Linked DNA regions of Homo sapiens: all the other regions are linked to region 1. Evidence: fine-mapped expression QTL. A gene starts in region 1. Each other region holds a variant in brackets. All regions are shown on one strand. Distances are between the middles of the regions.

Region 1 (4,089 bases):
TATACAACAGGCAGAAAACCAATGTGCTGACTAGTATACTGGTTCCTTTTCTTAGCTCCTGGCCAGCCAGTCCGTTGTAAAATTTTCTTTAGATTATGATGCCAGGGACTATTGCTTTTTGAAGGGCTGCCAGGGAGAGTTCAAGCCATTCAGGCCCTTCATCAGTTGTGTCACCATCCATTTCAGTTACCTGTTGATACCTAGCAAATCGCCCTAAAACTTAGTGGCTTAAACTACAACTACTTATTTAGTATGTGATGCTGTGAGTCAGCTAGTTGAGCAAGGCTCAGCTGGATGGTTCTTCGGCTGGTCTCAGCTGGGCTCACTCATGTGCTTGTCATCAGCTGTGCGGGTGGGGGTGGGGGGGCGTGGAGGGGGCGGCAGGCAATGGCCTCACTCACACATCTGGTGATGGTTGACTGTTGGTTGGGAATCCTACCTTAACCAGCAAGCTATTCGGAGCTTATTTACATGGTTTCCAAGAGCAGAAGCAAGAGTTAAATCCTAATGCACAATTGCTTTAAAAGCCTTTTTTTTTCTTTTTTTTTTTTTTTTTTTCTGGTAACACATGTACAAACGTTGCTTTGGTCAAAGCAAGTTACATGACTGAGCACAGAGTGAAAGAGACAGTGGCAGGGCAAGGGACAAAGAAGGGGAATGATTGCTGCCATTTTGCAAACAGTCTATCATGTGCAAAACAAGGCCAAGAACAAACTTTCAAGGTGATACTTCATTCTTAGATTTCCAAGATGCTAGAGCCAGAAGTCCTAGTTGAGTCCCTGTTTCTCCACGTTTCAGGCCTCAGTTTCCCCATCTAATAAATGAGGATAACATCCATTTCACAGGGTTGATCCAGGATCAACAGGGGCTAAAAATTATAAATAAATGTTGGTAATGATGCTTCCACAACTGTACAATGGGTTCACAACTTCTCAACCTACTTGCTCATCTCCACACACAGCGTTTCTGCGAGTACAGAGGGCTCACTATTGATAGTGGTCCAAGAGGGGATTTTAGGTGTCACAGGAACAGCACCTTGAATACGATTGACTTATGTGTGTGATTCACCTTCCCTCTGTCATTCTCTTTCAGTCTTTCCTCTTAGGAGAAGTCTCAGCTTAATGCCAATGCCTTCCCCTTTTGCTAATTATTTTATTTTTTGTAAAGAGGGGGTGTGTCACTTTGTGGCCGAGGCTGCTCTTGAACTCCTGTCCTCAAGGGATCCTCCTGCCTCAGCCTCCCAAGGTGCTGGGATTACAGGCATGAGCCATGGAATGCCACCAGTGCCAATTTGTCTTTGACACCTCTCTCAACCCATGCTAACCATCTCCCTCAGAGTTTTTGGCCCTATTTAGAATTGAATAATGCTTTATTTTCAATTTTTACATTTGCTTTCTATTAATGACAAATGATACGTTAAAAAATATATAAGCAAGCACTAATAGTTTAAAAAACAATGCTAAGTATATAATAAAACGTGGTTCATTCATTCTTGCGTTCAACAAATATTCGTCCAATAAATATATGTAGAGCATCTCCTATGGGCCAGGATCTTGCCAAAGGCACATCTGCGAACCAAGGAAACCCCTGCCCTCGGGGAGCTTGCATTCTAGGCGTGGGAGTCGTGATGGTGGTCGGAGAAGGACTGGATTTGGGGATTTGCTTCTTGCGGGGGACACAGGCCTGCCCGTGGGGCCCGCCTCCCGCGCGGAGAGCGCTGAGGGGTCCGGAGTGACCTGTAGGCTGAGACCCTGGCTTCCCCTTGCCTAGAGGCCGGGCAGGAGGCGCGGAGCCCGAGGTCGCGGGGCTGAGGGCGCGGGGCGGGCCCGGCGGGGCTCGGCTGCGGCCCGGGCTGTGTCTGCGGCCCCGGCGGCCGCGCCCCTCCTCCCTTTCCCTCCGGCGGAGGCTGACGTGGAGTCAACAGCGCTGGCGGCCGCGAGAGGCGGCGGCGCAGCGGCTCGGAGGCGCCGGGCCCTCTCGGGGCCGCGCGGGGCCCGGGCGGCGGCGGCGACGCGACGTCGCGAGGAGGAGGAGGCGGCGGGGGTCCAGGAGGCCGGCCAGCGCATGGAGGAGGAGGCCATGAACGGCGACCGGACTGAGAGCGACTGGCAGGGGCTGGTGAGCGAGGTGAGGCCGCGGCGCCGGCCAGGCGGGATGGGCCGGGCCGAGCGGCCGCCAGCCCCGGGCCCGCGCCCCCAGAGAGGCCGAGCTGGGAGGGACGAGAGGGGGGCGCGCACTCCAAGTGGCCGCGGCTGCCGCACCCGCGCGACCCCGCCAGGTGCGCCGCTCCTCCTGCACTTTCGGGTCTGCGCGGGCGCCACTTTCTTCCGCGCCATCTGGTGTCAGCCTTTGGGGAGGGGCCTTCCCCCCAAGGCAGGGGTTGGCCCTGGATTGGAGGCTGAAGCCCTGGGATCCGGGAGCAGAAGGTGCCAAGCCCCACCTGCCTGCCCGCTCGCCACTGTTGTGGAGCCAAACAATTGGACGCCTGGGACTGAAACGGGAAGGTGGTGCCATGGGGGAGAATCCGAGCCCTGGGGTGGAACCTGGGCCAGGTGGAATTACCTGCGGCGGTGGTTCGAGTTGGGGGAGTTCGGGGGTCCGCTGCAGCCGTTCACTCATTCACTTGCTCAATTCAATCAACACGTGTTTACTGCAGGCCTACCATGTGTAAGGTGGGGAGGGGCATTTATCGAAAAAGTGAAACACAGGTGCAGAAGTGATTCGATTTGTGGAAGCACAGAACACCGTGTCCCCCTGCCCTGCGACTCTTTTGTCATAAACATACCCTGGGGGTCCACTTTCAGGATCCTATGCTGTTTGCTCTTCAGTTCCCCCTAAGAGTTTGCCGGCCTGCCGGGAGAAGCTGCCGGCCTCTCCAGGTGAGAGGGAATGCGGATTTCTCCCTCTCACCTGGAGGCAACCAGGTAAGTTGCCCTGGTTTGCCACCATTTGTGGGGGCAATTCCTGGTGTTACTTACCCATGCCGGGGAATTTCTCCCTTCTGAGAACCAAGCTCCAGCCAAGGCCAACTTGGGGCTTCCTTTTCTTTAATCCTGTGCACACAATGCAGAGTGTATCGGTTTGCTCTTTTCCTTTCCTTGTGGGTTATGGGAAGGGAAACCCTCTACTCCCTCACTCCTTTCATCGTTTTCTGGGTCTCCAGGTCAGTCTGATAATAGTGCTTCATGCCCAGTGTGTGCAGAGCGTTGTGTTTCTGAAGAGGAATGACATGCGGTAGCTCCTGCCCTAGTTTAGTTTGCTCAGCATTGGTCTAGTAGTTGAAAGCTCTCCTAACTGTCTGGTGTTATGATCCATTGTATTGCAGCCTGGCTCCATCTTCTCAAACTGTCAGGCTTTATGTTAAGGGGCAGATCCTCTGGGGACCTTGTTTCTGGTCCCATCAAGAATCATACTTAGTAGTCAAGGAGGCTGGAGGTAGTTCTCCTTAGAAGTCCAGTGTTAGGCCCTTAAATAGCAGCAGAATCTTCACTACTCCAACAATTGCATATCAGGTGCCTGTTAGGAGTCAGTACATTGTGAGGTGCTTGGGATTCAGTGGTGAATAAGACAAAGAACTCCCCTACCCTCAAAGAACTCCTGGGGGTTTCATGATATAGTCTGGGAGGAAGGTCATACCGTAGACAGTGAGAGTGAACTAAAGGATGGAAAGGCTTCAAGTGCTAAATGGCATGGGGTGCCCCTCAGTTGGCTGGGCTTAACCTTCACCTTGCCCTGACCACATTATTGTAACAATAGGCTTCCTCACTAGGCCGTGTGCTTTGTTTGGTTCTTTATTCCAGGGCCTATACACAGAGCTCTGTATGCAGCAGGTGCTCGAAAAATGCTTGTTGAATAAGTCAGTGAATCCTGAAGTAGGTCCTTCAGGAGTTTTCCTGCCCATCCCAGCAGAGTTTCTCCAGAGTAATACCTCCTTAACTTCACAAACATGAGGTGGGCACGTAGCCAGGGGCCATGGGGGAGGTGAAAATGGGTCTAACTTACTTCCCACCTTAATAATAACTAATGACTATTTTTTGAGTGCATCCTTCATATTAAGCATTTTACATGGCCTCATATTCACAATGACAT
Region 2 (4,089 bases), 22 kb before region 1:
GGACACATTTTGGTGTCCTGTTATATACTAGAGTAACTATAGAAAATAACAATGTACTATATATTTCAAGAAAGCGGAAAGAGGAGATTTTGAATGTTGTTACCACAAAGAAATTATAAATATTTAAAGTGATAGATATGGTAACGACCTTGATTTGATCATGATACTATATATACATGCATTGAAACATTACATTATATCCCATAAACATGGACAATTATGTCAATTACACATTTAAAAAATAAATTTAAAATATTTAAAGAAAATAAATCCTGATTTTCCCTAGAACATATATTTGATGATATATATATAATATAATGATTGATATATTTCAATCATTATAAAAATATGTGGCAATATTGCCCATCTTAAAAAGAAAACCTCAAAAAGCAAAACTGAAAACCTCCCTTATTCATACCCCCCACTGACCCTACTGACCAATTTCTCCCCTGCCTTTTTAAGCGAAAGTCTTGGAAAGAGTTGTGTATATTAGCTGCCTCTACTTTCTCATCAGTTCTTTTTTCCCTACTACTCCACTGAACTTGCTCTTGTCAAGGTTGCCCAAGACTTCTGGAACCAATGAGCACTTCTCATCTGAGTTGACTAATATCAGCAGCTTGGGTGAGCATTGCCTCTTTCTTGACACATCCACTTTCCATGGCCTCCTGGACATCATTCTCTTTCTTGTTACTTCTGCTTACTCACTGACCACCTCTTTTTTGTCTCTTTGCTGGTCTCTCCTATGCCTGATCTCTAAAAATTGAGAGTTCTAGGTTCCGTTCAGTTTCATGGTTTTAAATACCAGCTATATATAGATGACTCGCAAATATATAACTTTGGTTCTCCCTCTCCCCTAAACTTTAGACTCATATATTCATTGTGTCTAGTCTTTTCTGACTGCTATAACAAAATACCATTTACTGGGTGATTTATAAGCAACAGAAATTTATTTCTCACAGTTCTGGGGACTGGAAATCCACAGGCAATGCCCTGCAGATTTGGTGTCTGGTAAGGGCTTGCTCTCTGGTTCATAGATGGTGCCTTCACACTCGGTCCTCACGTGATGGAAGGGGCAAGGGAGCTTTCTGGGGTCTCTTTTATAAGGGCACGAATCCCACTCATGAGGGTTCTGCTGTCATGACCTAATAATGTCCCAAAGTCCTCACCTCCTTATACCTTCATATTGGGGGTTAGGTTTTAACATAAATTTAAGGGAGACACAAGCATTCAGATCGCAGTATACTGCCGAACTAAAATCTCTATTTTGATTTCTAATAGTCCCCTTGAATTATTTAAAATATAAATCTTTACTTTTACTACCCCTTACCCCAAATTTGCTCTTCTTGTGTCTTTTCCATTCCAGAAAATGGTACCATGATTAACACGGTTGTCTAGTCCTAAGATATTGAAGTAAGTTTGAATTATGCGCTTTCTTTCACTTCTACATCCAATCTATCTGCAAGCATTGCTGTGTCTAACTTAAAAATACTTCCAGAATCTGATAAATTCTTGCATCTCCGTTGCTACTTCTCTGGTCTAAGCCACCATCATCTCTCATCAGGATGATTGATGGAGCCTGCTATCTGGTCTCCCTCATCCCACCTATCCTCCTTCTTTCCTCTAATCCATTTTCTACATGGAAGCCAGTGGGATCCTTCGGATATATAAGCCATTTCATGTTACTCTTCTATGAGAGGTTCTCATCACATTTGTAATAAAATATAAAGATCTGATCATGACCTTCAAGTCTCATGATAATCTGACTACCTCTCTGTCTCCATCAACTGTTTACTTATCGTATTCTCAGTCGACTTTCTTCAGCCACATCCCATATCTTTGTTCTCTTTGACCTTCTTATTAATCCTCAAAGACACTAAGTGTTTCTATCTCAAGGCCTTTGTCCTCATGGTTCCCTCTGTCTAGAGTGTGCATCTAGACCATCTTTGCTGTGGCTCAACCACTCACTTCATTCAGGTGCCTGTTCAAATGTCATTTCCTGAGATTACAATATCTAACATGGTCCACTACTCCCAGTCACTCTTTGTAATAGATAACTAATTCTGCCATTAGAAAGTGGAGTCCATATCTCCACCCTTGAGTCTGGGCCAGTTTTGTGGCCTGCTTTGACCAAGAGAATGCAGAAGAGGTAGCAGTGTGCCAATCTGTATTCTGTTTTCATGTTGCTAATACCTACCCAAGACTGAGTAATTTGTAAAGAAAAATAGATTTAATTAACTTACAGTTCCACATGGCTGGGGAGGCCTCACAACACTGGTGGAAAGCAAAGGAGGAGCAAAGGCATCTCACATGGCAGCAGGCAAGAGACAGAAGGAGAGCCAAGCAAAAGGGGAAACCCTTTATAAAACTATCACATTTCATGAG[A/T]CTTATTCACTACCATGAGAACAGTATGGGGGAAACAACCCCCATGGTTCAATTACCTCCCACTGGGTCTCTCCCACAACATGTGGGAATTATAGGAGCTACAATTCAAGATGAGGTTTGGGTGGGGACACAGCCAAATGATATCACAGTCCTAGGATTAGCCTTTAAGAGGCTTGGCACATTCCACTTTGGTCTTCTTTGGAAAGGCCAGCTGTCATGCTGCAAAGAAGATCAAGCTAGACTACTGAATGGTGAGAATGACACCATGGAGGGTGACAGCATACACATGAAGGAGCCCTGAGGCATCAAACATATGAATAACTTATTGGACCTTTCAGCATCGTTGGCAACAGAATGCCAACAAGTGGTTGACTCCAACTGGTGTCACATGGAGCAGAAGAACCATCCAGCTGAGCCCTCCCCAAATTTCTAACCCACAATCCTGAAAAATTAATGTCATTGTTCAAAGCCATTACATTTTGGGATAGTTTGTTACATGGCAATTGATAACTGAAATATTCTCTAACTCTTCATTCTGTTTATTTTTCTTCATAGCAATTATCTCAATAAGAAATTACACAATTACTCATTTATTTGTCTACAGCTTATTATCTGTCTCTCCCTCCAGAATATGAACTCTAGGAGGAAAAGGACTTTGTCTTGTTCACCACAGTATTCCCAGTGCTTGGAACAATGCCTGGCCTATTTCAGGACTTAATAAATATTTCTTGAATAAAATAAATACTAAGAACCCTAACATAAGCCTTAACTTTCCACAAAAAATTATACTCATCTTCATAGACACATTTTTTTCTTTAATCTCAACATCCAATTACTTTTGCCTTTTAAATCAAAGTTCTCTATCAGTTTGCTAGAAAAACTTACCAGGCATTTGTTTTTTTAAATCCAGAAAATACTTTGGTTCAAGATCTGCAGTACATTTTAAGATGACTTGGGCGTTATTACCATTCACTGAATAATCCTGTGGGTAGGTTAATGACAAAGTACCACTTAGTATCCTATCTTCCCAGGATAGATTTCTAGTGCCACCCAGCCCCTCCCATTTAAGTACATACAAGTCCTCACTTTTAGGATAGCACATGCAAGCAGGGGCTGATAGTTCCTTATTAATTCCTGAGATCCCACCAATTTTTCCATCAGGGCAACACAAGAACAGCCCCCTCTTTGTTAGTCATAGAAGAAGATCATTTTCTGTTTTTTTTCCTGCCTGACTCACTGGCCCTCACCATGCATAAGACATCAGACACTGCCACATTGGGAATGCCTTTCTCTGAAATAGGTTTGCTGTGATTTCTTTCATGCCTGGTTGGAACACAGAGTCATAATTAGAACAAGGCTCCTCTCCCAGATCATTGCTCTGATGGCTCTAAATTGGTTCGCACAGCTCCATTTTCTTTCTAAATGAATAGGACCTTTGCTTTTCTGATTGTGGACATGTGAGATTGATCACCAGGTCCCTGACACTTCCCTCTGACTAATGTTTTCCCTGGTGTTTTCAGGTATTCTGCCCTATTCATTTCACTTTGGAAGCCAGTGCTGGGTTGCAATTTAATTTTTCTAAATTTAGTCTGTAGAAGGCTCATGACCAATGGGAGGGGATTACAGCTTACCAGGAATCCACATTTAAAGAAAAGGAAAGTCGTCTCTGGGGATCTGGATTTATTTACAGAGTTTGAGGACTCAAAA
Region 3 (4,089 bases), 110 kb after region 1:
CTGTCATACCTTTCTTCACTGTTTAGCCTGAGGGCTGGGAAGAGATTGGCTTCTGGGGAAACTCAGTGTCTGTTATTGAATGCACATGCCCGGGTACTAAGAGCTGGCTCCGCCATGCTGCTCCCCACTCATGCAGAGCAAGCATTGCTGGTTAGGTCCAGAAGGGGCATCAGAGAGTCCTATCCTGATCACAAAGCAAGTGAGTAGGGAAATGAGGGCTGGATGTCAGCACTTTAAGGGCTCCCCCTTCTCTCCCATGTCCTTCCTGTTGCAGTGCTAGAATTTCCATCCTATAGAGAAGGGGTTTAGGGACAACAACTCAACAGGGGAGGGAGCTTGAAGGTGTATTTGCATATAATTTATTTGATATTGAGGAACACTAGGTGTCCGCATTAAGGAATGAGATGCTGATGGAGAATCGTGGAGAAGGGGTGGCACTAAATCCTTCCCGAACTATCCTTCTTCTTCCCACCCTCAATGCAGCCGGAACCTTTTTTCATTACTAACAAGCCCTGGCTCTCAGCTGCAGAACCAACAAAACCTTTGTCCTCAATTTAAATATTTAATGGGCACAAGGAGCGGCCATTAGAGAATGGAACAGAAGCTAACCAGGTGCCTGGAAAGGATGGATTATGACATGGCCCAAGTGCTCCCTTGCCCTCTGTTAATAATGCAGGAATCACTAGAATGCATGCTCGCTGGTTTCACCTGGGTCCTGTGTTCCCCTTTGGCTCCATTGCCCTGCACAGGGAGCCAAAAAAGTCTTGCTCCTTTTTCAGAGGCCCTGTGCTGGTAGGCTGGGCAGGAGGTTGGCAGAAGAGGGGCGGTGAGGGCTGATTTGCTGCCAGAGGTTTAATGTTGTCCTCGTTCTGTTTTCAGGGGAGGCTCAGAAGCAAGAAGAAGATGAAAGTTGTGCCGCTGCTGAGGCGTTGACAGCGCCTGAGGATGCTGGGAGGCCCGCTGTCAACTCCCCAGCAAATCAGAGCCGCGGGAACCAATGCAAGCTCTTTCATCCTTCATTACCCCAGTTACCTTCTGAGGAAGAAGTAAACAGCCTTGGGAGGGAAATAATTAAACTGACAAAGGAACAGGCAGCTGCAGAACTGGAAGAGGTCAGAAGAGAGAGTCCCATAGAAGGTCAGAGGAGTGAGACGGGGCCAGCCCCGCCAGGCCTGGCCATCCAGGGGGAGCTCCCTAAATCTCACCTGGACTCCTTCGAGGCCAGCCGGCCAGCAGCCAAAGCTTCCACACCGGAAGACGGCAAAGGGATCCCAGAGGGCGGAGGCATGAGGAGCACCGTGAAAACCTGAAGGGGAGAGGGATCTGACACAATGACACATTGAAAGCCCCAGAGAGGGTCAAGAATGAAGCATCGGAATGGTGCGCTCACGTCGCCTTCTCCTGAAATACCTCCGAGTCTGCAAGTGAGAAAACGCACTGATCCTGTTGCAAACTGTGAATATTCTGATGATGCCAGTACAGTTTGATTTATTAAATGTAGGTCCTCAAGCTTCTCAGTGTCATCTCTTTTCTGCCAGAGAGTGCTACTGTGAACAGGGCCAGGCCCAGGAATCGTGTCCACCATATGGCTGGTTTTCAGCATCCGTCTTTCTGTCAGCTTTTGTTTTATCAGAGATAAGATGTTTTTGTATTAGCATTTAATGTTGTCAATCAAAATTATGGGAAGAGCTAGAAACTGATGGGGTTTTTAATCAGGTCCCCATCTTGGTCAAGGTTAGGCAGCTGGAGAGGAAGGTATAATTGAGCAAAACGTGTCCAGAGGACCCATGGCTGCACCCCATCAAGTCAGGGCCCAGGAGGACTGCCTGGCATGGGTGTGCTTGGCATTGTGCCCACAGCACTGCTGTCGTGGTACAGACTGGCAGTTGGAAGGGGCCTTAAGCCGGCTGAGAAGTTTGGGCTTCTGGGTTGAAATCCAC[A/G]GCCCCGGTTGAGGCCTGTGTGCTGAGTGCCAGAGCTGGAGTTTTCTAGCTTGTAAATCTGGAGAATTAACTGATCTGAAGTGACTGGGAGGGGTGAGCATAAAAGCCGGGGAACAGGACTCCCAGTGGTGGTCTGGTTTTTTTTGTGAGATGAGATGAGAGCTACCACCTGGAAATGCTCATTCTCTGCATTCAGCCTGTCTCACATACAGGATTGTATGGCCATTTCAGGTTTGGGAAAGATCTACCTGCTGGGAGCCAGTCTAGTTTCCTGCACCACCTGGAACTTCCAAACCCTTCACTCCTTCAACAGAATGTTGAGGCTGCCTCATTTGTGCCACCAAGTACGGGAATCTTAAAGACAGAAACAGAGCTCATGACCTTTTATGGGAAAGAGAGAGGAAAACAAAACAACTTCACAACAGCATGGCAAGGGGGGATGTGGAACCAAGGACATGATACAGGGATGGGAAAGGAGGGCATGCTCAATTCTAGCTGGTTCTTTCCTTTCAGATAAAAATGAGCTTTTCTAGTTGGCATCCGGCACTGCAGAAAACTAAAAGTCATCCAGCCATAGCTTTTTCCTTCCCTGGAAAGCCTGAGACTAGATCCCAAAGCTCAGAATGCCTCTGAGAACCAGAATCACTCCTTTGAGAGGCGCTCCTTGCAGGAAAAAGAGAGGCTCCCAGAGTGGTAGCCTCTCAGTGAAAATGCATCCTAAAAATTCAATGTTTATACCAGGCTCATGACACTAAGATGTGACATCTGGACACGAGGGGTCAGCCACGTGGATACATCCCTCCCAGATTGCATCTCCAGGAATCACTCTGCTAGCAGAATGGGCGCCCCATCCCTTACTATGCTGCTCCTCCTCAAAGTGCAGCCCAGAAGGACCCAGGCCTTTGATGCACATTGGGTGGGTCTCCCACTACTTTAGTTGAAATGGGAGCATGCTGGAGTCGGCGTTCTGTTGCTTCTGGTGAGAAGGACATCCCATTGACCCCTGGCCACCAGGTCCAGTATTCCATCCTTCCTTCTGTCCCAGCCTATCGCCCTCCCCACCAGGCCCACCCCCACAACTTCTCCTCAAGGGAGGTTGCTCCCGCAGCTGGAGGGCTTGCACAGACCAGCAGTCACAGAAATCATTCTTCCTGCTGTACTGGGCCTTAACTGCCTGCAAATGTCCAGCACTACTGCATAGGATGCCAGAGCCACCGAAGGAAAACACAGCCAAGTTTAATAATAATAAAAGGAAAAATCTCAGCCTGCAGAACTCTGGTTTTGACCCACCATCGGCCAGATGCACATCTTCAGGGCCTGTTGAGCACCTTCTGAAAAGCAGGGCTCGTAATAGACTCCAGCACATTCCATCAGAGTCAGGAAAACTGCAGTGAGTCCCAGAGAATCTAGGGTGCAGGGCAGGGAGCAGGAGTCATAAGGAGTGATAACCTAAACTGTGTGTAGTCAGCGGGGAGGGTCTTATGTTATCAGGTGAAATGAGAGCCAGTAAGTTAGTTGATCCTGTCACAGATATAACCCTGATAACACCCCATAGATACGCGACACGTGTGTCCTGCCCCTGCTTTCCCCATCCAACATGGTTCTTCTGTTCCACAGACATTAAAGGGGCTTTCTGCAATTACTTACAGCTGTCTTTTGTCTTTTTTAGGATCAAAGTTTAAGGTTGTGGCATTCTGTCCCCTACTTCACTAGATAACCCTGCATCAGTCATGGTCCTCTCAGCTTCAAGCCACACTTAACAGAAACTTAAGCGGTAGGGAAATGAATTATGTTGTATAACAGGAACTTCGAAAGTAAGGCATTCCAGGGCTATACATTCAAGAAAGTTGTCAAGGTTCTAGGTTTCCATCTTCCTGCTCTTCCTGCTGTGTCAGCTGCTTTCTCATGATAACGAGGTGGCTGCAACAGCTCCAGATAACACCTGTTCAAAGGCAGAAGGAAGTTTCTTCCCACATACGTGTGTGTGTGTGTTTCAAGAGCGAGAAACCCAGTTCCTATCACATTTTATTGGTCAGAATGATCACCTGGGGCTTGTGGTCGCATGAGACCTTGTCACATGATGATGTCACATGGCAATGTCTTAACCATTTCTTAGCAAGGGAGATGGTATTACCATGATCTGTTTAGG
Region 4 (4,089 bases), 100 kb before region 1:
GGTAGGAGCATGCCTCACCTGTTGGAGGAATAGCAAGGAGGCCAGTGTGGCTAGATCAGAGATCCACTGAGTAGTTGGAAACCGATGAGATGGGGTCTCCTAGGTAAGCAAGAGTGGAGGTAGCCAGGCAATAAAGGGTCTTGCATGCCACCGAAGGAACTTTGGCTTTGATTCCAGGAAACATGGGAAGCCATCTGAGGTTGAGCAAATATACATAAAGAGCTTAAAAAGTGCTTTTTGTAAAAAAAAAAAGAAAGAAAATGTATATTATAATCCAGCATCTCTTATGTTATATTTGCATAACTAAGCTCATTTCTCTATCTCAGTATTGATGACCAAAGCCGTGCTATAAGTCAACAGCTTTATCTGAAGGGAGTTGAGAGTGACAGGGCATGAGATAATAATCACATTGCAATGTGACTTTCTTGTTCTAGTTCTTTGGCCAATAACCACATAAAAGCACTACCAAGGGATGTCTTCAGTGATTTAGACTCTCTGATTGAACTGTAAGTAATGAAATTTAGTTTATGTGTGTTTGTCATTGTGCCCCAGTTAATCATGTCTTTCAATCCCCTCTCGCCTTTCTTTTATGCATTTCTTTTATGCTGTGGTTAAAAATCTATAACAAAGTAGTGCATCCTGGGAAATAGCATACAGTTTGTATTGTGTTGGATTTTGCCATTTTATACTTAGCACCATGAGGCCAATGGTAAATCACACTTGCTGGGTGGGAGATCACCTCCCTGAGATGGCACGTTCACCTGCTTTATCTTCTATCATTGCTTCTTACTGGATGTATTTTTTTTTTTTTTAGATGTAGTCTTGCTCTGTTGCCCAGGCTAGAGTGAAATGGTATGATCTCCACTCATTACAACCTCTGCGTCCTGGGTTCAAGTGATTCTCCTGCCTCAGCCTCCTGAGTAGCTGGGACTACAGGCGCACACCACTACCCCCAGCTAATTTTTGTATTTTTAGTAGAGACGGGGTTTCACCATGTTGGCCAGGCTAGTCTCGAACTCCTAACCTCAGGTGATCTGCCTACCTTGGCCTCCCAAAGTGCTAGAATTACAGGCATGAGCCACCGTGCCTGGCCTACTGGACGTAGTTTTAACAAGAGCTTGAAGTTTCAATTGTGTTTGTGAAAACTGTCTTCCTACAATATCCTCTTTGTTTATGAGAACCTCTGTTGGGGGCTGCTCTTCTATCATATGTCTCCCATTTCTGGCATGGCGTGGAGACGAGAGCATTTGGAGAGATGATATGTCCTCGCTGAGAGCTCTCTGGACATTATACAGTTATTCAGTTAAATTCCCAGGTGCTGAGGAGTATTAAATAAAGTCAATGATAGATACAAGAAACAGGAGATATTAATTATAAAAGTTTTTAAACTCCATTTTTAGGGGGTTTTAAATATATCAGGATGTTAATAATTCTGGAGTTTCGTGTTACTACCAAAACATGTCAGACACATCTATTTCTCTTTGTATGTGTTTGTGTTTTATTTTGATTTTTAGAGATTTGAGGGGTAATAAATTTGAATGTGACTGCAAAGCCAAGTGGCTATACCTGTGGTTGAAGATGACAAATTCCACCGTTTCTGATGTGCTGTGTATTGGTCCACCAGAGTATCAGGAAAAGAAGCTAAATGACGTGACCAGCTTTGACTATGAATGCACAACTACAGGTATTCAGAGCCTATCTCATCAGACACGGATATTTAGAATAATCTCTTTGTCTTTCTTTTACACTGTCAACAGAGACTGGGGAAAAGTGAATATAGAACTGTTTATCAAAATTGTTTTAGAGAAATTTTAAACATTCTAAAGAAATGAATCGATGTGGTAAGGAAAATATCTCAAAAGTTTGGGAGAATTTTTGTTAACTGCCCTGGCTTTATTTTTGCTTCTTTACGAAATTCAAATTTCTGTAAGTGTTTCATTTTCTTAAGTCAAAGTATAAACTTGTGGGTTTGGCAGGAGAACATTTTCAAATCAATCTAGGTTTCATAGAAGGCCACTGCAGGGAGGCTTAGATTACTCGGTTGAGACTGTTCTTTTGCTTTAGGAAGATGTTCATTGGACATTTAACTAACAAACATCAGAATTTTTTTTTTTTTTTTTTTTTTTTTTTTGAGGCAGAGTCTTACTCTGTCGCCCAGGCTGGAGTGTAGTGGCGTGATCTCAACTCACTGCAATCTCCACCTCCTGGGTTCAAGCGATTCTCCTGCCT[C/T]AGCCTCCTGAGCAGCTGACATTACAGGTGTGCACCACCACACCCGGCTAATTTTTGTATTTTTAGTAGAGACGGGGTTTCACCATGTTGGCCAGGATGGTCTCGATCTCCTGATCTCATCATCCGCCCACCTTGGCCTCCCAAAGTGCTGGGATTACAGGTATGAACCACTGCGCCTGGCCCAAACACCAGACTTTTAAACCCACAAATGACTTTCAGAGTCCCATGTAAGAAGAGATAACTAGGTAAATTATAACCAATGGCAAAATAGAAAATAAAAGTTAACAACTAGTTATCAAAAGGAAACAGCTCATATCGAGGGAAAAATGTAAAGAAAGCTTGATTTTGTTTTCCAGGGCCTGCCACAAACTTTCAGTTTATACATTTTTCAGGTTATAAGATAAAACCAAAATACTAACTGCCTCCACTGTCACAACATGGGGCCAAAGGTATTGGTGAGTATCTCCATTGGAAAGGCTTAGGTGGGGTTTCTACAGCTTCTAAAGCCAGAGAGAGGAGGATCAGGCCGCTGTATGAAACCTGCTTACCCAATTTATAAAAATAAACATTCAGGCTGAGAGCTGATATCTACAAAGCCTCAAGTCATGTCAGGAGAAGCAGCAGGAATGAGAAACAGAAAATAGTTACAGAAACTCAAAAGACACCAAAACTCCAAGAACAAAATATCATATTTAGGCCAGTCCCCGCTACCACCTTCCAACAAATAAACAAAAACCCAGAAAGTAAAGATCATTTCTAGGTATCTTTGTTTGTAAATAAGGGACCCTGCAAGTTCTATTCTTTTCTGATAGACAACCTGCAATCTCACAGAAATGACTTTTCCTTTCATCATCAAATAGGGGCTTACTCAGCTGTGTAATTGACAGGTGCCCCACAGTCAGCTGAGGCCACTACGAGGTTAGTTTATTGTATTTTAGGGCCAGGACAATAAATCAGAGGTCGTAGTCGATAACATTTGCACCAAAAGGTGGCATTCAAGACTATTTGGCGTTAAATGCTAAATTTAATTAAATTGAATAAACCAAAGCTAAACTAAAGCTCACTGAGACTTCTCACTACCTTTTCTCCATTTTCTCTGCAGAGGTCTCGAAACACCAAGGTGAAATTTGCAGATTTTCCCTTGTTCTCTTCACACCTGGCCATAGCGTGGAGAAACTTTGCTAATCTCTGATGGAAGTAATGGGCTATAGGGCCGTGGGAATAGGAAATAATTTCTACAAGAAAACATATTTTCTGAGCTTAGGGCCCTGAGGATAGTTATAAAAGTGATCCAGGCTCTGAGAATTGTTATTGGAATGGTGGTAGCTTGGAACTGAGGTAACCTGTCCTCATCCCAACATGGAGTAGCAAGAGGCCTTAACACATTTTAGAGCCTTCTCTGTCTCATGCAGTATTTGTCTTCATGAACAAGCTTCCTACTAAACTTTAGAAAGTCAGCGCTAGGCTTTCTGGTGAGAGGGAGATGATAATTCTGGCTTTGTGCTATGGTTTTATCCCTTTAAGACTCACAAACAGAGATGAGGCTCTTGCTGACAGTTTCTTCCATCGGGAAAAAAATGGTACAACAAAGTTGTGATCCACCCCCAAACATAGGCCCCGCTGTGTAAGAACTAGGTCAACAAATTTTGAGTGTTCGGGGTTCATGTCTTCTGTTCAGATCAAACCTTAGCCTCTGTTGCTTCGTTAAAAGCTAGATGGGGAGTAGGGGCGTGGGGTCGGGGGAACAAATGAGGATGGAGGGAAAATGGAAAGCCAAAGGTCGAGAGTTCATGGTACAGTGATCGTATTCTTGCCAAAGGTTTAGAAAGAAGCACATTTTCTGAATATGATTGTTTTCCT
Region 5 (4,089 bases), 59 kb before region 1:
CACAGGCGCTCTCCTTTGCAGGATTTGTTCCAGGCGTTTGTTTATTTGCGCACCACTTTATTTGCCACTAAAAATACTCTTCCGAAGCAGAGGCGCAACTGACCGTGACTCTTGCGAAACAGCCGAGTGCACAAGCACTGAAGGGCTCCCTCTCGGGCTTCCCGGGCTCGGGGACTGCAAGGGGAACAGAGCAAGGCCTACTTGCCTTAAGGCAGGCAGCTCTGTTCACTTCCATAACCCCAAACCCAATCCCTCCATGAGGCACTTGCTGGTTAAGAAGCAGCTCTCAGCCTGCCTGGTGGACTGTGGATAACGTTGCACAGAACTCCTCAGTTGTAACCAACAAAACTCAGTTCAGACCGGGTTAATCATACACTCACACACACGTATTGTCTCAATGAGCAAAAATTCCAGAGACTGCTGTAGGCACAGCTGGATCCAGTACCGATGGATGGCTGGAATCTGGTCTAACTCTGGCCTTTTTCAGTTCTTTTTATCCTCTGGGTTGGCCTCACTCTCAAGCATGTTTTCTCCTCACAATGTCAAGATAGCTGCCAGTAGCCTCAGGCATGCTTAATCACAGCTCCAAGTGCAAACAAAAGGGGACTTCTTTTTCTCCAGACTTTTTTTAAATGCACTTTATTGAGGTACAGTTGATATACAGTAAACTCCATATACTTAAAGTGTACAATTGGATAAGTTTTGACATATGTGTACACCCATGGGACCACCACCATGTCGACACAAAGAGTCAGACTCCATAAAATTTTTAAACAGGTTTATTCTGAGCCAAATATGAGTGACTAAGGCCTGAGGCACAGTCCCAAGAGGTGCTGAGAATATGTGCCCAAGGTGGTTGGGTTACAGCTTGGTTTTTATATGTGTTAGGGAGACATAAGACTTCAGTCAATACATGTGAGGTATATATTGGTTTGGTCTGAAAAGGTGGGACAACTTGAAGGGGAGGGTTACAGGTCATAGGGGGATTCCAAGATCTTCTGATTGGCAATTGATTAAAAGAATTAAGTTATTATCTAAAGACCTGGAATCAATAGAAGAGTGTCTAGGTCAAGATGAGGGGTTGTGGAAACCAAGGTTCTTGTTACATAGATGAAGCTTCATGGGTGCCCACCCTTACAGGCAAAAGATGGTGAATGTTTCCTGCTCAAACCCTTAAAAAGTGCTAGACCCTCAGTTAGTCCCTTCAGGATTGGGAGGGTCTGGAAGGGGAAATATCTAGTTAACAGAGATTCGTTACAGATGCAATTCCACCACAAAAACAAAGTTGCAGGCTATTTCAAAGTGTGACAAATAAACATACTTTGGGGTAAAATGTTTTGATTTCCTTCTTTATCTGTCATGTGATGTTATGCCAGGGTCAGATTGGAAAGTCAGTCAGTTAGACAGGTTTAAATAAAATGTCTCTGATGAGATTTTACAGTTTGTAGTGTGTGACTCCCCAGGCCTCTTAGGAATTTGGGCAAGAGAGGAAAAAAGGCTGGGCGTGGTGGCTCGTGTCTGTAATTCTAGCATTTGGGAGGCCGAGGGGAGCGGCTTGCTTTAGCTCAGGGGTTTGAGACTAGACTGGGCAACACGGAAAAACCCCATCTCTACAAAAAATGCAAAAATTATCTGGGCGTGGTAGTGCGTGCCTGTAGTCCCAGCTACTTGGGAGGCTGAGGTGGGAGGATGGCTTGAGCAAGGGAGGTTGAGGCTGCAGTGAGCTGAGATGGCACCACTGCACTCCAGCCTGGGTGACAGAGAGCCTTGTCTCAAAAAAGAAAAGAAAAGAAAAGAAAAGAAAAGAAAAGAAAAAGGTCAGAATTTAGTCCTCAACCACAATCAACACAGCAAACAAGTTCATGATAGCCAGGGTTTTCCTGTGTCCCTTTGTCATCCTTCCCTCTGTCTGTGAAAATAGTCAAACTCTGTGGAATGTTTGAAGAGATTTATTCTGAGTGAAAATGAGTGACCAGTCCTCCATAGATTCTGAGAATGTGCCCAAGGTGGTTGGGCCACAACTTGGTTTTATATATTTTAGGGAGACATAAGGGACCGATTGATATGTGTAAGATGTACCTTGGTTGGTTCTGGAAAGGTGGGACAACTGGAAGTGAGAGCTTCCAAGTCATGAAGATTTAAAGATTTTTTGATCAGCAACTGGTTGACTTATTTTCAATAGAAAGAAATGTCTGGATTATGATAAGGGGTTGTGGAGACCAAGGTTTTATTATGCAGATGAAGCCTCTAGGTAGTATGTTTCAAAGATAATAGATTGTAAA[T/C]GTTTCTTATCAGACTTAAAGAGTCTGTTCTATCAGTAGTTCTAAAAGAGAGGATGGTATAATGAGGCATATCTGGCCCCCTCTTCCCATCATGGGCTGAACTAGTTTGTTTTTCAGGTTAACTTTAGAATGTCCTTGCCAAGAGGAAGGGAGTTGGTGGGTGAGTGGCAGATAGCTGGGAAAACATTCGAGGAATCATAGACAGCTTCTACATGGCTGTACTCTCTCCCTGGGCAGGAGCGAGCCGAACGTACAGCATTAGCAGGGTAATTATACCTTTTGCAGACAATAGTGGCTCCAAGCCAAGCACAAGCTCATGTGGGTGACCACCTAACGTGCCTCATGTGGCAAGGTTGCATAATGTGCAGGGTTGTGCACCTGCACTCCTAACCTGCTGAATCATGCTGCACTGGAAGCCTGCCTTGGCTTACTCCTGACTAAAGTGCAGTCATCTCCCTCATACTCCACCTCCCAGGCCGAGGGCGTCCCCCGGGCAAGGACACAAGCCCATAGGGCAGAGCCCTGAATTCATAACCCACAACAACAACACAGAGAGCAACAACTCACTACTAGGATCCCAGCTATGCTACTTATGACTATTAGGACCCAGCATAGGCCAGAGCCTAGAGATGCCCACCAACTCTGTAGGGGGTCGTCAGTAAGGGTCTTGACCACCTTAATCTCCCATGAGACCCTTTGCAGGGCTGCTGTTATATTCTGCCAATTGTCAGGGATAAAGGTACAACATTGTGTTCCTAAAAGGGCACAGGTGCCTCCTTGGGCAGCAGTTATTATGTCAAAGGCCATTCAGTTTTGCAACACCACCTTTCTCATCTGATCAACCTCATCCATAACAGGATGAGGGCCACTCGGGTGTAATTCAGAGCCCTGGTGGTGTGCTCTGCAAGAGCAGTAACTTGTGCTTCTACAGTTTTGACACCCACTCCAGGGATAGTCATTGCCAAGGGGTAGGACCACCAGGGGGCTCATTGCACTCACAAAACCCAAGAGAGTAGTGCCTCCCAGGTATGTGGGAGTCTGGGCAACATGGGGAGAACAGTGCCAGGTACATGAGGCCACCCCCAGGTACAACATCCAGTCCAGTCCACTGGTTGGTAAGGCCACCCTGTGTCACTACAGACCCATAGACTGCCAGGGGGCACAAAATCCATTAGGGCGTGATGTTGGTGGGGCTTCTTGTTCCACCACCTTGTCACTATACCTTTGGTGTAGTGACATGTGTTATGTTCACACAAGCCATGACGGGTACCCACTCCTCAGTGGTGTTACCCCAGTGTTTCTCAGTGCACCATGATGCCTGGGCTGGAGGTACTACACGTCCCCCCAGTAGCCAGCCCCACCCATCATAAATGCTACAGGCTAGCCAGGGGGTGGGTGCACCTTGGGTCTTGAGGTGTCCTTTGTCCAAAATTTGCTGCATTGCGTTCCAGGCATCAGCCACAGGTGTCCAAGTCTCCAGCCATGTGCAGTTGTCTGCAGATGCTGAATGTATGTGCCGAGGCCAGCCATCCACAGCTGTTGCTGGAAAGGTGGTGCAGATCCAACAGCTGGAAACACCGGTCATCTCAGTGTAGGTGTGGGCTGAGTCCACAATGCAGTTGGAGCATGTTAACCTATGACGGAAATGACTGAGTAGGCACAGATACTGATGGAGGTAAAGCACGTCCCTCAGGCAAAATATAGGCTAACCTTTCATCCCTGGATAACAGTGCAGCCACCAAGGGTTTTTGCCATGGGCAAAACCACACCTCAGCTCCCCACGGTTCCTTTGAGTCCTGTATCTGTG
Region 6 (4,089 bases), 34 kb before region 1:
GCTGGGGAGGCCTCAAAATCATGGCGGAAGATGAACGAAGATCAGAGGTACATCTTACATAGTGGATGGCAAAGAGAGAGTTTGTGCAGGGAAATTCCCCTTTATAAAACCATCAGATCTCATGAGATTTATTCACTATCACAAGAACAGCACAAGAAAGACCCACCCTCATTATTCAATTACCTCCCACCAGGTCCCTCCCATAATATGTGGGAATTATGGGAACTACAATTCAAGATTTGGGTGGGGACACAGCCAAACCATATCACGGATGATTCTGGAACCCAGAGAGAGGAAAAGAGAGATATGGTGGAAGGAGGACACTGGGCAGGAGCACTGCCACTGCCAACCAGTGGCCTGGGAGGGAGGGAGTTGTAGGTGTCAACATCCTGCCCTCTATCTTATTTCATCCTCCAATCTTCTATGGGCACCTCCTGCTGGCTAAACCTGAGTGGAAGCTGGCCGGCAAGGGAGTTTAATAATGCAGTCCTCAGCATTGTGGAGCAAGAGCAGGGTGAGAATGCTGGAGCATGGGTCTGCAGAGGCAAAGTGAAAATCCAGCAGAGTAGGATGAATCCATGAGCAAAAAGCCTCCTACTATTAAAAAGACAAAGATAACCAACATTGTGAAAGCCGTTATTCTGCATCAACCTTTTTATTTCACAAGGGTGGAGATTGAGGTAGAAAACAAGGACTCAAGTTGATCCATTTGTAAACCTAGAACCCTTGTCACCTGATGGCAAATCCCTAATTTGTCCTCGAGAACATCCTTTGAACTTTCTCTCTTGGATGTACTTCAGAGTCACACGCTTCTCTAAGGACAGCTATTTGCAACCACTTTCTGATTTTTCAGGATAGGTTTCTTAAATCACCTGCCGTAGCCCACTGCCTGCCACTCCTACGCCTGTGAATTTACAGTTCCAGTTAAAGTAACGTCCATGAACAGGGAGGGAACGAAGGCTCTCCCTATCCCTTCAAGCCCCCAAATTGATTTGGCACTCGAAGTCACTGTTATATTTTATACTGAGTCTTCTGAATCAGTTCATTGAATTTTAGCTGTAGCTATATAAAATCCTCTCCAGTGAAATTATTTGGCCATATTGCGGATGGCTCTGCCATAATCCATCAATGCCACTAACTATCTGCAATAAAAAAAAAAATCCTCCTTCTTTTTTCATTGTAATGAATTTTCTAAACTCAGATTGAATCTTGGAAGGTAATTTACTGGCTTTTTAATTTTTAAAAGGTAGCATTTTGTATTTTTTATATGAAGCCCACAAGATGAGTGGTGGCAAATTTTGAATATTTCCTATTCTGAGAAATGTTGTTGAGGATGAGGTGATTCAGGCAACCCTGGCTTGGATTTCATGGAAGAGGAGGATAGACGTGGGGAGGACTTCATGGGAGTCCAGTTTGACATAGACATCTGTGACTTTTTGTAGGTTAGGAGGGAGGAGTTCTCTACATGTATTAGTCCGTTCTCACACTGCAAATAAAGACATACCTGAGACTGGGTAATTTATAAAGAAAAGAGGTTTAATTGACTCACAGTTCAGCATGGCTGGGGAAGCCTCAGGAAACCTACAGTCATGGCAGAAGGGGAAGAAAACATGTCCTTCCTCACATGGCGGCAGCAAGCAAAAAGAGGAAAAGCCCCTTATAAAACCATCAGATCTCATGAGAACTCACTCACTATCATGAGAACAGCATGAGGGTAACCACCCCCATGACTAAATTACCTCTCACCCTGTCCCTCCCATGACATGTGGGGATTATGGGAACAAAAATTTGAGATGAGATTTGGGTGGGGACACAGCCAAACCATATCACTAAGCAAAAAGCAAGGATGAAAATTCAGCTGAGATTCTTTCAATGCATTAGTAAATTAATAAAGGGGGAAAATTAACATAATTTATCCAAAGATTGCAAAAATATTATTACTGTCCTGCACAGGAACCTGTTTTCCTGGGCAGAGAGGAAGCTATTGAAATCGACTTTAGGAAAGCATTGTAAAGTGGCTTGGGTGGAGGAAGCAGATGGCATTACAAAGAGGAAATAATTCACAGTTCGGAGAGGAAAATCTATGAGTACATATGAATATGCGGGCACCACAAGTAATTGTGTATTAAAAACCTAAGTCTTAAACTCTAAAAGTGCATCTGTAGTTAACATAAATAAGATTTTTCAGGCAAATCTTTAGACTAATCACAAAGCTGGCCTTAATATTAACTTGCCCACTAGGATGGCAGAGATGAAGCTCCTACCCACGCTAGGATAAAGTGGTCATATATTCACTGTGGACTCCTTAGACTGCCATTTAACATATATTCCTTTCTCAAAGGAACATCCTTTAGTTAATCAACATTTTATTTTCTCACTAGCTATGCAACTGCGTTTTAACCAATGGAAAGTCAATCAAAAAGATTTTAAAAAATATCTTTACCAAGTACC[C/A]GCCATTTGTTGCAATGTTTGCATTACTTTTATAATTAGGAAAAAAACCAAGATATTTTAATTGAAAAGTGTTATGTTTGAATGATTCAAAAATCAAAGTAAATAAGTTCTCATTCCTCTTTAACCCAGCTAAGTACAGACCACTTCAAGGACACATATGAAGACAAGAGATTTGCAAGCAACAGAAATGGACTCAGTAATTTTACAAAAAGGGATTTATTGGAAGGATACTGGGGACTCACAAAATCTCAAGGAGGCTGGAGAACTGGCCTGAAAGTGGATAGGATTCAGGCTAGGCAATTGAACCATGACACCTGTCCACAGTGATGCCTGGTCACAGCACTGGGAAGAAGAAATGCTGTATGTTTGAGTCTGCGTCTCTTGCTAACAACCTAAAGTCCCAGAAGAGAGAGTGATTGGTCAAGCAAGGGTGGTGTGTCTATCTTTGACTGTTAAGTATGTTTTTCAAGAATACTTATCACCCAAATTCTTCTATTTTTGCCTATGGAGAGGTACTTGGCCTTCTTTCCTTTTTTCCTGGAACAATGGTTCTCAAGCTGTGATGCCCAGACCAACAGCATCAGCATCACTTGATATATTAGTTTGTTAGGGCTGCCAGGCATGGTGGCTCATAGCTGTAATCCTGGCATTTTGGAGGCCCAGGTGGGTGGATCACTTGAGGTCAGGAGTTCAAGACCAGTCTGGCCAACATGGTGAAACCCCATCTCTACTAAAAATACAAAAATTAGCAGGGCGTGGTGGCAGGCCCTTGTAATCCCAGCTACTTGGGAGGCTGAGGCAGGAGAATCGCTTGAACCTGGGAGGCGGAGGTTGCAGTAAGCTGAGATTGCACCACTGAACTCCAGCCTGGCTGATAGAACAAGACTTCAACTAAAAAAAAAAAAAAAAGTTAGGGCATATAACAAATTATCATAAACAGAGTGGCTTAAAACAACAGACATTTACGTTCTCACAGTTCTGGAGTCCAGACGCCTGAAATCAAGGTGTCAGGAGGGCCATGCTCCCTTTGAAGGCTCTGACGGGGACTCCTTTCTTGCCTCTTCCTAGTTCCTAGAGTTGCTAGCAATTCATTGGTTTTCCTTAGCTTAGAGATGCATCGCTCCAATCTCTGCCTCTGTTACCACATACATGGCACCTCCTTATGTGTCTCTGGATCTGTGTGTCTCTTCTCCTCTCTTTATAAGGACATCAGTCATACTGGATTTAGGGCCAGTGTGACCTCATCTTCACCAGTTACATCTGCAAAACCTCTGTTTCCAAATAAGGTCACTTTTGGAGATTCCTGGTGGACATCGATTTGGGTTTGAGGGGGTGGGATGCTATTCAACTCAGTACACCTGGGTAGTGCAAATTCTCAGCCCCCACCCTAGACCTACTGGGTCAACAAGCCTGGGAGTGGAGCCCAGCAAACTGTGATTCAATAAGCCCATTCGGGGATTTGGAACCCTCTAAAGCATGAGGACAAATGTCCTAGAAGGGGCTGCACAGGCATCTTCCAACTTCAGTATTCAGTTCTCATATAAAACATGCAGGTATTTTTCCATTTAAGGAGAAAGGAGGGTTTGTGGGAGTAGGGGCTGGACTCTGAAGCAGAAATGAACCTGCACCTGAGCTCTG

Which allele goes with the higher level. Alleles are on the strand shown, and positions count from the first base shown. SD is a standard deviation of normalised expression in the study named. Not every link is listed here.
With allele A in place of G in region 3, the expression in pancreas of the gene that starts at base 1,902 in region 1 is lower (small effect, 0.34 SD a copy in GTEx).

What was found. PIP is the estimated chance that this variant, and not a neighbour inherited with it, causes the effect. A credible set is the group of variants that fine-mapping cannot tell apart.
Region 2: its variant is the best candidate, but not a certain one, in a credible set for the expression of CCDC149 in whole blood (TOPMed, PIP 0.89).
Region 3: its variant is the best candidate, but not a certain one, in a credible set for the expression of CCDC149 in pancreas (GTEx, PIP 0.59).
Region 4: its variant is the best candidate, but not a certain one, in a credible set for the expression of CCDC149 in whole blood (INTERVAL, PIP 0.72).
Region 5: its variant is the best candidate, but not a certain one, in a credible set for the expression of CCDC149 in whole blood (TOPMed, PIP 0.75).
Region 6: its variant is the best candidate, but not a certain one, in a credible set for the expression of CCDC149 in nasal epithelium (TOPMed, PIP 0.86).

What each region holds. Positions count from the first base shown.
Region 1 is chr4:24,910,855-24,914,943 of GRCh38, reverse strand. It overlaps CCDC149 (coiled-coil domain containing 149), which reads left to right and starts at 1,902. Exons shown (of 13, transcript NM_001395273.1): 1 at 1,902-2,127. The coding sequence starts at 2,080.
Region 2 is chr4:24,932,571-24,936,659 of GRCh38, reverse strand. It overlaps a transcript of CCDC149 not described here. Among named protein-coding and RNA genes, the nearest start is that of CCDC149, 22 kb to the right of the region's middle. The variant A/T (reference allele first, on the strand shown) is at 2,383.
Region 3 is chr4:24,805,610-24,809,698 of GRCh38, reverse strand. It overlaps CCDC149 (coiled-coil domain containing 149), which reads left to right. Exons shown (of 13, transcript NM_001395273.1): 13 at 880-4,089. The coding sequence ends at 1,310. Among named protein-coding and RNA genes, the nearest start is that of SOD3, 12 kb to the right of the region's middle. RefSeq lists an enhancer at 376-956. The variant A/G (reference allele first, on the strand shown) is at 1,941.
Region 4 is chr4:25,015,584-25,019,672 of GRCh38, reverse strand. LGI2 (leucine rich repeat LGI family member 2) reads left to right here. Exons shown (of 8, transcript NM_018176.4): 5 at 435-506; 6 at 1,515-1,684. All of the region lies in intron 4 of LOC102723675 (a long non-coding RNA gene), which reads right to left. Among named protein-coding and RNA genes, the nearest start is that of LGI2, 13 kb to the left of the region's middle. The variant C/T (reference allele first, on the strand shown) is at 2,230.
Region 5 is chr4:24,970,014-24,974,102 of GRCh38, reverse strand. It overlaps a transcript of CCDC149 not described here. Among named protein-coding and RNA genes, the nearest start is that of LGI2, 59 kb to the left of the region's middle. The variant T/C (reference allele first, on the strand shown) is at 2,283.
Region 6 is chr4:24,944,896-24,948,984 of GRCh38, reverse strand. It overlaps a transcript of CCDC149 not described here. Among named protein-coding and RNA genes, the nearest start is that of CCDC149, 34 kb to the right of the region's middle. The variant C/A (reference allele first, on the strand shown) is at 2,452.